Homo sapiens: one gene and its partners. The protein of the gene in region 1 purifies or fractionates together with the protein of each later gene. This does not show direct contact. Each region holds a gene or a part of one and is shown in the gene's direction. Other genes may lie near its edges.

Evidence for each region. Proteins that work in one complex are often made in the same cells at the same time.
Region 2: the proteins of APLF (region 1) and UTP18 purify together in Homo sapiens (co-immunoprecipitation; one large-scale study listed by IntAct). This does not show direct contact.
Region 3: the proteins of APLF (region 1) and TDP1 purify together in Homo sapiens (affinity purification with mass spectrometry; 3 studies listed by BioGRID and IntAct, with this or other methods). This does not show direct contact.
Region 4: the proteins of APLF (region 1) and MACROH2A2 purify together in Homo sapiens (affinity purification with mass spectrometry; 3 studies listed by BioGRID and IntAct, with this or other methods). This does not show direct contact.

The regions. Positions count from the first base shown.
Region 1 is NC_000002.12:68,474,085-68,477,584, forward strand, and holds part of APLF (aprataxin and PNK-like factor), read left to right. Parts: intron 1-3,500. UniProt on the Homo sapiens protein: Histone chaperone involved in single-strand and double-strand DNA break repair.
Region 2 is NC_000017.11:51,294,990-51,298,433, forward strand, and holds the end of UTP18 (U3 small nucleolar RNA-associated protein 18 homolog), read left to right. Parts: intron 1-1,975; coding exon 1,976-2,000; 3' UTR 2,001-2,014; intron 2,015-2,792; 3' UTR 2,793-2,944; downstream 2,945-3,444. UniProt on the Homo sapiens protein: Part of the small subunit (SSU) processome, first precursor of the small eukaryotic ribosomal subunit.
Region 3 is NC_000014.9:89,986,927-89,990,426, forward strand, and holds part of TDP1 (tyrosyl-DNA phosphodiesterase 1), read left to right. Parts: intron 1-1,978; coding exon 1,979-2,164; intron 2,165-2,790; coding exon 2,791-2,839; intron 2,840-3,500. UniProt on the Homo sapiens protein: DNA repair enzyme that can remove a variety of covalent adducts from DNA through hydrolysis of a 3'-phosphodiester bond, giving rise to DNA with a free 3' phosphate.
Region 4 is NC_000010.11:70,090,846-70,094,345, forward strand, and holds part of MACROH2A2 (core histone macro-H2A.2), read left to right. Parts: intron 1-911; coding exon 912-1,109; intron 1,110-2,889; coding exon 2,890-3,000; intron 3,001-3,500. UniProt on the Homo sapiens protein: Variant histone H2A which replaces conventional H2A in a subset of nucleosomes where it represses transcription. Nucleosomes wrap and compact DNA into chromatin, limiting DNA accessibility to the cellular machineries which require DNA as a template.

The DNA.
Region 1 (3,500 bases):
TAAGGGATATGACAAAGGATACAGATGAGGAGATGCATAGGGTAAGCTATGGGAAGGGATACTGAGCTTCCATGCTCTCACCAAGTGTGCCACCCTCCAGAAACCTCTACATGTTCACCTGTTTGGAAGCTTTCCTAACCCTGTCCCCTTTGGGTTTTTATGGAGTCATCGTTATTTAGTCATGATTGATTAAACCATTGGGCATTAGTGATCAGCTAACCTTTAGCCCCTCTCGTCTCCCTAGAGGAGGCTGGGGCTTGGGGCTGAAAGTCCCAATTCTCTATACCTTGGTCTTTCCAGTGACTAGCTCCCACCCTGAAGCTATCTAGGGGCTGCTAGATGTCACTTAACTCATTAGCATACAAAAAGACATCACTTGGGAGATTCTGAGGATTTTAGTGGTTATGCCAGGCAACAGGGACAAAGACTATATTTTACAATTATATATATCTTCCCCTGAATTAATGCCTTCAAATTTTCATCCCCCATTTACTACTTACCATGAATATGCTATCTTCTCACATGTCTTCATACTTTTGTATGAGTTCCTTTCTTTGGTAATTTGGTTCTGTAGGTAGTGTCTGGGTATCTGTATTTTTTTGAGATGGAGTTTTGTTCTTGTTGCCCAGGCTGGAGTTCAATGGTGCGATCTTGGCTCACCACAACCTCTGCCTTCTGGGTTCAAGAGATTCTCCTGCCTCAGCCTCCTGAGTAGCTGGAATTATAGGCATGTGCCACCACAACCGGCTGATTTTGTATTTTTAATAGAGACACGGTTTCTCTATGTTGATCAGGCTGGTCTCGAACTCCTGACCTTAGGTGATCTGCCTGCCTCAGCCTCCCAAAGTGTTGAGATTACAGGCGTGAGCCTCCGCGCCTGGGTAGTATCTGTATTTTTAAAAGCTCTGAAGATGATTGTATTGCAAAGCCAGAGTTAAAAACTACTTCTAGACACACTAAGTAGAGTACTTGGCACAGAATAGGTCTTTAAGAAATGTCTGCTGAACCGAACTGAATAAGCAAAATAACTACTTAGACACATTAATTTTCCAAAGTCCCAAGTGGTGCTTTAAACCCACTTTTGTCTTCTTAAGCTTTCCTTATGTCTTTACTTACTATGTTGCCTCTGTCATCATATATTAATGATGAGGATGATGTTCTCACACTTGTGCAGCATTCACTATGTAAGCAGCATTGCAAGCCAAACAGGTTGGATGAGTTGAAATTTCAGTGACATCATGATAGTCAGCACAATTTCATCATATTGGCTAACAATTCACCAGCCTTGAATTAGAGCTCAAAAAGCATTGGATTTGCTTTTTAAAATCTAAAGTGATGCATATTAATCAGTATTGTGAATTAGGTGTTTGTGAGGTTGCCTGATAACCTACCATTTACACCATTATTCTTATGGGAAAGCATATTCACAAGTTCCAAAGAACATTTCACATCAAATATATTAACCTTTTAAAGAGAACTTGATTTCTGAATTGAAGTGTTTATGGGGAGTCTCTGGGCAAAATCAAGTCTATTTCTTCATAATTGCCCCTTCTTAACATCAGAAGTTGGACTTTGTACATTCCAAATACGATAATGTCAAACATCTTATATCAACTACTTTTGCTCTGTTGAAGAATAAGACCGACCTCTTATCAAATATTATGGCAGAGTCTCAGCATAGATGACTGAGCTCTGGAATGCATGCTGGACTTGGCACTGGGAAGATATCTAGATAAGACAATTTTATGATTTGTAGATTTCTTTATAGTAACCAGTCTGGATTCAGTTTAAGTCTTTTATATATATATATATATTTTACTTACCCTCTGCTCCACAAAAGTAGAAGGAAATAATCTAATGAAATTATGTCTAAAATAGATCCCATGCTTTTTTTTTTAGGTTTATGCATTTCACCATAATACTGGCTCAAATCCTATACTAGATGACTTTCTGTTTTTCTCTACCATGAAAATTTGAATTTGTCTATTTTTGTCTGTTGTTGATACAGCAAACTAGATAATCTTTTGGGAAAGCACTGTAAATTGTGAAGTATTGTGTAAAGTAATGTTTTTTGTGTGTATTATGCTCTTTCCCAATTTTGCAAGATTATATACTCAATGTAGAAAATGTAGGACTTTCGCCTGTAATCCCAGCACTTTGGGAGGCCGAGACGGGCAGATCACCTGAGGTCAGGAGTTTGAGACCAGCCTGATCAACATGGTGAAACCCTGTCTGTACCAAAAATACAAACAGCCGGCTGTGGTGGTGCACACCTGTAATCTCAGCTACTTGGGAGGCGGAGGCAGGAAAATCGTTTGAACCTGGGAGGCAGAGATTGCAATGAGCTGAGATTGTGCCATTGCACTCCAGCCTGGGCAACAGAGTGAGACTCAAAAAAAAAAAAAAAAAAAAGTAGGAATTTCACCAAAATCAAGTAAGCAGGAAGACAAAATAAGCACTTCGAAGTCAATTACCAAGAGATAAGCACTGTAAACATTCAATGTAGTTCTTTCATGTATTTAATCTGTGTACATAGGTATATATATTTTATTCAGTGTATATATTGTGCAATAGTTACCACTGATTTTTAATTAATATTATACTATAAATTTTATTATTAATATTCTGAATAGTATTTTCAGTACAACCTTCCAGTGGCTTACTGTCACACTTAAAACCCAAAGTCCTAATGGGTATGAGGTTTCCTTTTGGAGTGATGAATACATCCTGGAAATAGAAGTGATGGTTGCACAATTTTGTGAATACAGTTAACCCTGAACAACATGGGTTTTGAACGGCATAGGTCCACTTCTATGCAGATTCAACAAGTATATTGGAAAAGTTTTTGGGAGATTTGTGACAATTTGAAAAACCTCACAAACTCTATATTTAAAAAACATTGAAAAATTAAAAAGATATGTCATGAATAAATGAAATATATGTAGGTAGTAGTCTATTTTATCATTTACTACCATAAAATATACTCAAATCTATTATAAAAAGGTAAAATTTATCAAAACATACACACACAAACACAGAGTGTACATAGTGCCATTTGCAGTTGAGAGATATGTAGACAAATGTAAAGCATAAAATTCACTGTAATACATACTGTACTTCTGTAATAATTTCTAGCCACTTCTTGTTGCTGTTTTGGTGAGCTTTACTGTTGCAGGTATCTGCTTACGACAACGTGTGATGTGAATCATCTCAGCATGAGCAGTTCAACTCTCCAGTAAATTGTATATCATAATAAAAACAGATCTCAGCTGGGTGTGGTGGCTCATGCCTGTAATCCTAGCACTTTGGGAGGCTGAGGTGGGAGGACAGCTTGAGCCTGGAATTCAAGATCAGCCTGGACAACATAATGGGACTCCATCTCTACAAAAAGTAAATTAAAAAAAAAATTAGCTAGGCATGGTGGTACATGCCTGTAATCCCAGCTACTCGGAGGCTGAGGTGGGAACCTCACTTGAGCCTGGGAGATTGAGGCAGCAGTG
Region 2 (3,444 bases), on another chromosome or scaffold:
ATAAATGTCTTCTTTTGAGAAGTGTCTGTTCATATCCTTCGCCCACTTTTTGATGGGGTTGTTTTTTTCTTGTAAATTTGTTTGAGTTCATTGTAGATTGTGGATATTAGCCCTTTGTCAGATGAGTAGGTTGCGACAATTTTCTCCCATTTTGTAGGTTGCCTGTTTACTCTGATGGTAGTTTCTTTTGCTGTGCAGAAACTCTTTAGTTTAATTAGATCCCATTTGTCAATTTTGGCTTTTGTTGCCATTGCTTTTGGTGTTTTAGACATGAAGTCCTTGCCCATGCCTATGTCCTGAATGGTATTGCCTAGGTTTTCTTCTAGGGTTTTTATGGTTTTAGGTCTAACATGTAAGTCTTTAATCCATCTTGAATTAATTTTTGTATAAGGTGTAAGGAAGGGACCCAGTTTCAGCTTTCTACATATGGCTAGCCAGTTTTCCCAGCACCATTTATTAAATAGGCAATCCTTTCCCCATTTTTTGTTTTTGTCAGGTTTGTCAAAGATCAGATGGTTGTAGATATGCAGCATTATTTCTGAGGCCTCTGTTCTGTTCCATTGGTCTATATCTCTGTTTTGGTACCAGTACCCTGCTGTTTTGGTTACTGTAGCCTTGTAGTATAGTTTGAAGTCAGGTAGCATGATGCCTCCAGCTTTGTTCTTTTGGCTTAGGATTGACTTGGCTATGCGGGCTCTTTTTTGGTTCCATATGAACTTTAAAGTAGTTTTTTCCAATTCTGTGAAGAAAGTCATTGGTAGCTTGATGGGGATGGCATTGAATCTATAAATAACCTTGGGCAGTACTTTGGGTAATTTTCTACCATAAAATGTCACTAGCAGGAAACTTCACCTGGGGAATATATATATTTTTTGGAAAGCACTATTTTGAGAATGTCAAATTGAGAAAAAGCCACTTTAATAATATTTCCACTTTCTTCGTGCCTTATGTTTAGATTAGCTTTTGCTGATTTAATAATTCAGTTTACTCCACTAGATTTAATTGATTTCTTTTTAAAAGGTGTTTCTTTCCCTGTAGCTGTAAGCTGTAAATAAGGGTGTTAACCACAAAGATAACCAAAACTTATATGCGCTGTCCAGGTTCTTTTCTGTACCCAACATACTTGGCTATAAAACAGGAACAAACAAAACCTAATTGCATCATTGCTAGAAGATATAGGTGACAAGGTGGATCTTTAGGGAGAACTAAAGAGCTTTCAGTAGAAAACTTGTGATGTAAATCACAGCCCTCTTGCCTTGCTCCTTGTGTTGGTAGTGAATGCTACATAGAACCCTGTGTTTATGTTTGTATGCTTTAGGGAATTCCTGCTTTCAAAACGGACTAAAATCTGGAGTGAAGAAAAGGAGGAATGTAAATTGGTTTTGAGGAAATAGTTGTGAAAGGAGAATATACCAGACAATAATGTGGTTTACAGTTCTACTTACTTTGAAAGGAAAACAGGTTATACCAGGATAATTTCATCAGTCTCATTTCAGATCAGATTTGGAGTGGTTCTGTTTCAGTTTGTATTTTATAAAAGGATGCAGATTCTTATTGCACTTAGAATTTTCTTCCAAATCCTTTGGTATTTTTATAAGTGAAATTTTTTTTTCTCTAAGACCCAAAGGCCATTAGATTTTCCACCAGAGCATTGCTCTTTAGAATGACACTGTTTCTAGCTATACCAGTGACTGGAATTGACTGATGACATTTTTATTGTTTATGTCTGATCAGGTATTTCATAGACCCCCCATGTGAAACTTTGGAGTAAGCCTACTCATGTTACCTAAAATCTGAGGCGTTCAGATCCTCCAGAATGTCAGATTGAGGAGTCTGAACCTAACTGCCTGGTGTGAATGATTGTGATTACATATTTTTCCCACTAAAATCTTCCTAAGTGCCCTTCTGTGATCTAATTGAAAACACTGTGGGTAATTACAAAGTTGTTCAGATGACTTATTTTTTACTTTTCCAGGTTGCACCATTACTCAGACTTCTAAAGAGACTATTTGAAGTAAGAAAACCCTTTTCTTACAAATTCTGCAGGTTTTAAGATACACCCATTGCTGTCAGTTGGTGGAAGCAGCACATTAGCTGAGCTTTGTTTCTCTACCCCTAAGTTACTGCATCTTTATTTAGAGGGGTGGGTTGGAAGTAGATCAGGAACTGTCTAGCTGAAGTTGGACCCTCCTTTCTTATCCCAAATCACAGCAATCTGGCTCGGTTCTTCTGAGGTCTGATCTCTAATGTTGCATTCAATAATTCTCATCAAAATTGTAATTACTGAACATGTTTAATCCACAAAAGACTTAATAACACAGAGAGATGGGTCTTCAGATATAGCTATAGCTTGTATGAGCTTGAATCCTCTTATTATATATATGTTTCTTGAGAGATTAGCAGCTTGCTCTGTTTCACAGAGCTAGATAATGGGGCTGGCCATTAGTTCTGCTGCCCAATATTTAAAACCATAGAACATCCTTCCCTTCTCATGGTGTCCTTTCAGGCCTGAGATGTGGTGGTTCTGAGATTGAGCTTTGCAATTGGCCTCTTCATCACAGTTGACTGTTTGGTCTCCTCAGAGATTAATGAATGTTGAGGGACTTTGAGAATGCAGATAGATTTAATTAGGACAAAGGATTTTTAAAGGTACAGGCATTTTGGGCAAAGCTTTAGCAAGGAGGGGAAAGCAGTTTAGCTCTCCTGTCTCAAAAGATTACATTGCCAGTACGTGTCTGTTGATGACCAGCAGCTATAAATCAGGTATGTAATTTCTTTTGTTCTTTCCTCAGGTCCAGTTGAGTCACAAGAGAAGCCTGTCTTGATATATCATCTCAGAAACTTTCCTGAATATGTGATAATATATGGAAAATGATTTATAGATCCAGCTGTGCTTAAGAGCCAGTAATGTCTTAATAAACATGTGGCAGCTTTTGTTTGAAAATAAGTGTATCTGGTTCTTCCCTCCACCCCCAACACACACACACACAAACTTGGATGCATTTAAGACTAAACATGAGAAATTGGAAACACCTGTCTGTAGCCAAAAATAATATAAGCAGATTTTCTCATACTTCTCATACAGCTAACCCTGATGCATAGATCTCTTCCTGAATAGATCCCCCTTCCTGAATCGATCCTCCATGCTTTAGGGGATCAGCTAACAGGTAGTCTCTTGAGCTATGGAGGTCAGTCGGCTTGATATGAGAGCAGTGAAATCTCACGTAGTGAAGTTTGAACTTCCAAGTCTTCCAGGAAAGATGATTTTGGAAATGAAAAGGCTTTTCTGGCCTTATTACTTCAAATCTTTGTCATTGTCATTTGAAGAGGAGCCATAGTAAACCTGGTAGCCTTGTCCTACAGATTATTAGCCACTGCCCTTCCTGGAAATGTTCATTATGCCAACTTAAATGTTTAATTTGTATTTCAAGGTTGGCAGCTGGC
Region 3 (3,500 bases), on another chromosome or scaffold:
CATTCAGTACATATTTAAGTGGATACAGTTTCCAAATGTTTTCTTAATTGTTTCTGCAGCTTTGCATAATTATCAAAGCAGGAAATGCAGATCAGTCTTCTGCAGTGTTTTAGCTGGTATGTGTATGTAAATATTCTCTTTTATGTTTAGACCATCACAGCTGCCTGGAGCTCAAGTGTTAAACTATGACTGTTAAGCCTCTTTCAAATGATAGGAGTCAAAATATGTAATCCTTCTAGGTATTGTTTAAGTGTTGGTAGCAAAAAACTCACTTTGTTTCCTCTGCTCTCACACTACAACAGTCAACACAGAAAACTGTGACCAAATATGTGTGGGGTTTTCCTCATACACTAAGCAGGGGACACCAGCTGGGTGTCCTCTAATTCACTTCAGTTCTTATGCTGTCTTCCTGGAGATGTATAAAGAAAGTGACTTTAAAGAAAGTGATGATATAAAGAAAGTGATGGTATAAAAAAAGTTATTTTTTATTCCAAAGCTGGCTTAGAGGAATAAGTACAGGCTTCCTGTCTTAAGGATACTGCTTTGCTCTTGGAGCAGAAAGTGGACACTTTTAAAAGGGGCCTAGCATGAATGGCACGCAGAGGAGGAAGCAAGCAGGTGGATACTTCCTTACTTTCTGCCTTCTCTACCAGGCAGTCCATTTGGTCTCTTCCTGGGCAGAACTAGGTTGTAAAGATGGCTGAAACTCTCCAGGTGGGAGAGTTTCTTAGTGGGCATACTTTGGGTTGTAAATTTACTGCTGTCCCTCGAGGCAGTCCCCTGGTGGGAGAAAGTTCTGCTCTGGAGCTTCTAAGCACATAGATGAACTTGCCCTGTAGGGAGTGTCTAGTAAAGGAAAGGTAAAAGGTTATATTGTATTTCTAAAGGTCTAAGTAGGAAGTGGGGAAGGAGTTGGGGAATAGTAGGGAAAAAATAATTGAAAAAATACATTTTTTTTAAAGAAATATGGGGGTAGCCTCAGATCCCATAGATTGAGGGCTCCATCCCACAAGACTGCCCCTCTCCCTCAGACACCAGTTGCAAGTCTGGGCCTCCAGAACTTCTGACTGACCAGCTTCAAGTTGAGGTTCCCATGACCCTCTCTTTGGGCTTCATTTGCTAGAGCAGCTCGCTGAACTCAGGGAAACACTTAACATTTACTGCTTTATTATAAAGGATACAGATGAAGAGATGCATAGAGCAAGGTATAGGGGAAGGGGCACAGAGCTTTCATGCCCTCTCTGGATGCACCACCACTGTCCAGCAGCCCGCAGGTGTTCAGCTGTCGGAAAGCTCCCTAAACCCTGTCCTTTTGGGTTTTTAATGGAGGCTTCATTACATAGGCATGGTTGATTACATCACTGGCCATTGCTGATCAGCTCAACCTTTAGCCCCTCCTATCCCTGGAGGATGGGGGGTTGTGCCAAAAGTCCCAATCTTCTAATCATGCCTTGGTCTTTATCGTGACCAGCCCCCATCCTGAAGTTGCCTAGGGTCTGCCAGCCATCAGTCTCATTAACATACAGAAAGACTTCACATTGGAGATCCCAAGGATTTTAGTAGTTGCATGCCAGGAAACAGGGATGAAGACCAAATACATATTTCATAGCATCAAAGCTGCATTAAACACTTGTGATTTCAAGTAAAAAAAATCTAATTTCATATGACAAGTTGGTGGTTTATCTGAAATTTCTTCTGAAATGGGCCTTTTTAAACCTGTTTTTGCTTTTAGTACAAATCAAATAATTTTGGAAAGGAGAACTTCTGTCCATCTACTCCATTAAAAATATGTTTTTAGTATTTAAAAAAAATTTCCCAAAGAAGAAGTATGTATGTGTGGGTATGAAATTGATCACTAGTATTTTCAGCTTTTCTTGTTAATTAGGCTTTCCAAGAGCAGAAAACTGTTTTCAAATATTGCAGCATTTCTGTTAAGATTATTTGAGTCACTTTAACATTCACTTTTATTCTTTCCCAGCTTCTGAAAGACCATGCCTCATCCATGCCTAACGCAGAGTCCTGGCCTGTCGTAGGTCAGTTTTCAAGCGTTGGCTCCTTGGGAGCCGATGAATCAAAGTGGTTATGTTCTGAGTTTAAAGAGAGCATGCTGACACTGGGGAAGGAAAGCAAGACTCCAGGAAAAAGCTCTGTTCCTCTTTACTTGGTGAGTTCTCGTCCTCATTGAGGTAGTTTACTTTTATTCTCTACACAGGAGAAGAATTGAAAATTGGTCCTCTTTGTAATGGAGAGATGTTTTATTCTGTGATTCTTTTTTTTTTTTTGGCGTGGCGGGGGCGGGGTGCGGAAAGAGCAGTACATTAGCATCGTCATTTGTAATCAAGTTGCCTTTGCCTTAATATCCAGTGCTAAGAGCTTGCCGATTCGTTCAGGAGCTCCATTGCAGACACAGACTGGCCTGTGATTTTTCTATCCTTTCTTTCAGGTTGTTGAACCAAGGTAGAAAATATTTGATGTAGCACAGCCAGCAGAATTATGGGCATTTTAATTATTTAGAGAACTGTGAATTAATAATTAATTTTCCATTCAATGTTAACTTGAATTTCAAAGGAAAAAATACTCCAATTGAAGTATAATTTTACATCAAATATGGTTCCTGTTGTTTAATTACTAGTTCATTTTTTTCATAAGATGAGAACTTTTAAAAATTTAAAGCATATTTTCTAATTTAAAAGTATTTTTAACAGATTTTCATTTCCTTAAAAGCTGATTATCATTCCTTTTCTTCAACATGGTACATTCCGAGTTTTATTGTTTTCCTCTTATTTTTAGATCTATCCTTCTGTGGAAAATGTGCGGACCAGTTTAGAAGGATATCCTGGTAATTCTTGGGGAGACTGTCTTGATTGTGTTTTATGTATATTTCATGAATGTCCTGGTAAAGTTTTACTACTATTGCGTAGAAATTTGGAGATGGTTTTCACTTAACTATATAAGGATCATGAAAATAGGCAATATGAAGCTCTGCATTCCGCAGATGATACCCTTCAGTTTGGGTGTGTTATTAATCCTTACAGAAACCCTCTGCACAATAGTTTTCATTTTTACCAGTAAGGTAACCAGCAGGTTGGTTGTCCAGACAAGATAGCCAAATAAAATCAGCTTCCCCTTACTCTTCAATGCGTTTTCAGAGCTTATCCAACATACCTTCCTCTCATCTCTGCATATCCTCCCTTCCTGTGTTTGAGGTACCATGTGGTCCTTTTAAATGCCTGCTATAGATAACATTTAAGGTCCGGAATTTTTAAAATTTTGCCTTTGGTATAACTTTGTTGATATGTCTATTCTGTCAAGGGTGTCATCTGCAAATGCCTAAGATTTTTTGTAGGCATCTGTCAACGCTGTCCCTTTCCCTTATACTCATACCAGGCACTAAACCTTTATTTAGAATTCAGCAGCCCCGCTAGTTAGTGTAATCAGGAGATGTTAACTGAAAACCCACATAGTGGTTGTCTCTGGAAAAAGCAAAGTCTAATTGGCAT
Region 4 (3,500 bases), on another chromosome or scaffold:
GATGCTTGCTATACTTCTGTTGTCACTGACGGGTAACTACCAGTTCATGGGTGAGCCATGGTCGCAGACCATGCTTGGGGTAGTGTTGGTTTCGAATCTGCAGAATATATTAGTGGAGTAGTACGTGTCTGTTCTTTGCAGATAAATTAACTTATATTGATTGGGAGGAGCATGGCCAGACATACTTTACTGATGGAATGTATGTGCAAGCTTGTGGAGACCACTGGTTCATCATTAACTGGGTCTAGTCTTTGCAATGACCTTTGAACATCATTTTCTCAAGCTGCGCTCCCCACATGGGAAGCTTTTTATCCTGTGTTGTGTCTGGAATTCCAGAGCCCTGGGCAACATCCCTGGTTTCAACTTCTGTGTCCCTTCTATTTTGCTTTACTTCGTTTTGCTTTCTGTACAACATCACAGGATGCCTTGTTAACCTACGGAGAAATGCTCTACAACTGAAAGTGGGAAAAGCCAATTAAATGGTGTATTACGCAGTTTCTTTAGGAAAGCGGAGGCCACATTTAACAGTTAGAACCGTATTAAGTCCAGGCCAGGCACAGTGGCCCACGCCTGTAATCCCAGCACTTTGGGAGGCCAAGGCAGGTGGATCACCTGAGGTCAGCCGTTCGAGACCAGCCTGGCCAACGTGGTGAAACCCTGTCTCTACTAAAAATACAAAAATTAGCCGGGGTGGTGGCAGGTGCCTGTAATCCCAGCTGCTCAGGAGGCTGAGGTAAGAGAATTGCTTGAACCTGGAGGCGGAGGCTGCAGTGAGCCAAGATCGCGCCACTGCACTCCAGCCTGGGTGACAGAGTAAGATTCTGTATCAAAAAAAAAAAAAAAAAAGAACTGTATGAAATTGGGAACTAGCAGGCTGTTTGCTACATGAGCGCATGCATTTCTCTCTTCAGCTGCTAAAAGGAGTGACCATCGCCAGTGGAGGCGTCCTGCCCAGAATTCACCCCGAACTGCTGGCCAAAAAGCGAGGGACCAAAGGCAAGTCGGAAACGATCCTCTCCCCACCCCCAGAGAAAAGAGGCAGGAAGGCCACGTCAGGCAAGAAGGGGGGGAAGAAATCCAAGGCTGCCAAACCACGGACGTCCAAAAAGGTAGGCCGAGGCTGCGTGTCCTGGGCCAGGCACTCCCACTGCAATGGTCTGAATGTCTGTGTTCCCCCACAATTCATATGTTGAAACCTAACCCCAGAGGCATAGGATTACAAGGTGTGGGCTTTGAGAGATAACTAGATCATGAGGGCGAGTCCTCACGAATGGGAACAGTCCCCTTATAAAAGAGGCCTGAGGGAGGCAGAGGGACCCTTCTGCCATGTGAGGACACAGCTAGAAAGCGTCATCTACCAGGAAGTGAGCCCTTGCCAGACACAGAACCTGCCTGCGCCAAGGACTTCCTGCCTCCGGAACTATGAGAAACAAGTTTCTGGGCCAGGCACAGTGGCTCATGCCTGTAATCCCAACACTTTGGGAGGCCGAGGCAGGAGGATGGCTTGAGCCTAGGAGTTAGAGGCTGCAGTGAGCCATGATGGCACCACTGCACTCGAGCCTCGGTGACAGCGCAAGACCCTGTCTCTTAAACAAACAAAAAAAAAAGAAAGTGGTTTCTGTTGTTTGTGAGCCAGCCAGTCTATAGCATTTTGTTAGAGCAGCCCAGGCAGACACTAAGACGCTCACAGAACAGGAGGGAAGTTTAAAGATGAGACAATGACTTCGTAGCAGACACCTCTGAAGGACCGAGGACTCTTGCAGCTTGGTGCCGGAAGAAAATGACAAGAATGTACAGGTAAAAGAATAAAGGGCCTTTGAGGTTAGAGCTGAAATGGGTCTTCTCTAGGTTTCCAAACCCTAAGCAGGGATGGTTTTCAGATCCCTTTTACTACCCCCAGCAAAATCTGAAGTGAGCGATGATAGCCAGGAACCTGCATTTTATTTCTCTGCAGAGCTCTGTGTTGCCTTCCAAACAGCCTCTAGTCTCCTGCAGGCATTCCCTGAGTTCCGCCAGTGGAATTTCAGGTGTTTGGCATATACTTGATATACTAGGTGTTTGGGTTAGCTTGATATACTAGGTAGCTTAGCTCAGAGATGCCACTGATAGAATAATGTTTTCCTATGTTGCCCAGTACAGTAACCACTGGTCACATGTGGCTTTTTTTTTTTAAGAGACAGGGGTCTCACTCTGTCACCCAGGCTGGAGTACAGTAATGCAGTGGCGAGATCATAGCTCACTGTAGCCTCAAACTCCTGGGCTCAAGCGACCCTCCTGCCTCAGCCTCCCAAAGCATTGGAATTATAAGTGTGAGCTAAGGCACACAAGCCAAGGCTATTTGGATTTGAATTAAAACTAAATCAAATTTAAAATTCAGCTCCTTGATTGTACCAGCCACATTTCAAGCACTCAGCAACATTATTGAGGATCAAGATGAATATTTCCACGATCACAGAAAGTTCTATTGGACAACCCTACTGTAGAAGTTGTGGATGTTTCATTCCACACTGCCTCTGTGCCCCGAGAAATCCTGGGGAGAAAGAAGGCTAAGCAATGGGCTATCAACGGCCCCACCCAGCTCCGATGCTTGTCGTCGTGAGCTGCAGGCATTGAAATGAGCAAGGACAATGTGCTGGTGCACAGGGGTAGGTGAGGACTGCAGGTATGTGTGAGCCCTTTAACACACTTTCTATTTTGCTATTTTGCGGTACCCTTTTCTTTCCTTATATTGCTGACTTTTGCTCCCCTCCTTCAAGAAACAGCAGAACACATCACCTAACCACTTCCTTTCATATTCAACTTGGTGGCAGCCGTGAGAAGAGCTTAATAAAGGCACCTCAGGCTTTTTCTGGATTGGTTCTCATCTTGCCTTTTGATTTTTACCGACAGTCCAAACCAAAGGACAGCGATAAAGAAGGAACTTCAAATTCCACCTCTGAAGATGGGCCAGGGGATGGATTCACCATTCTGTCTTCTAAGAGCCTTGTTCTGGGACAGAAGGTAACAAAGAGAATTGCCTTGTGCTATATTAAAACACCACTGTATTTTTATAACCTACTGTTTACAAGCAATGATGCCTCCTTTCCTCCCCTGATAATGATTTTCACTGCAGTCTTGAATTATTCATTTTTAAACTAAAGAGCTGTGGCAGTGTCAGCATTGTGAGAGTGAGAATTGTTCTTTTTTGCTGAGAATTGTTAACGCTAACATTGGTCAGACAAGGGTGAGCATGGAAGCTCTTTCTGGTCAGTAGATAGGATGGCATTACTGGTTTTGCTGGGAATTCCCCACACCCCAGTTATTTCTACATCTGCCAAAAAAAAAATCCATAGCTAACTTTCTCAGACAGCTTCTGAGAGGCCCATCTTACATGGTTCAATGTAATTTATCAAAGAAAGAAAATAGAAATATATGTTTCCCAAATATCCTTGGTATTAGAAATGAATTATTTGCCAATAATTCAGTCTGCCTGCCTTCCTAGGCTTTAGAAAGTAAACAAA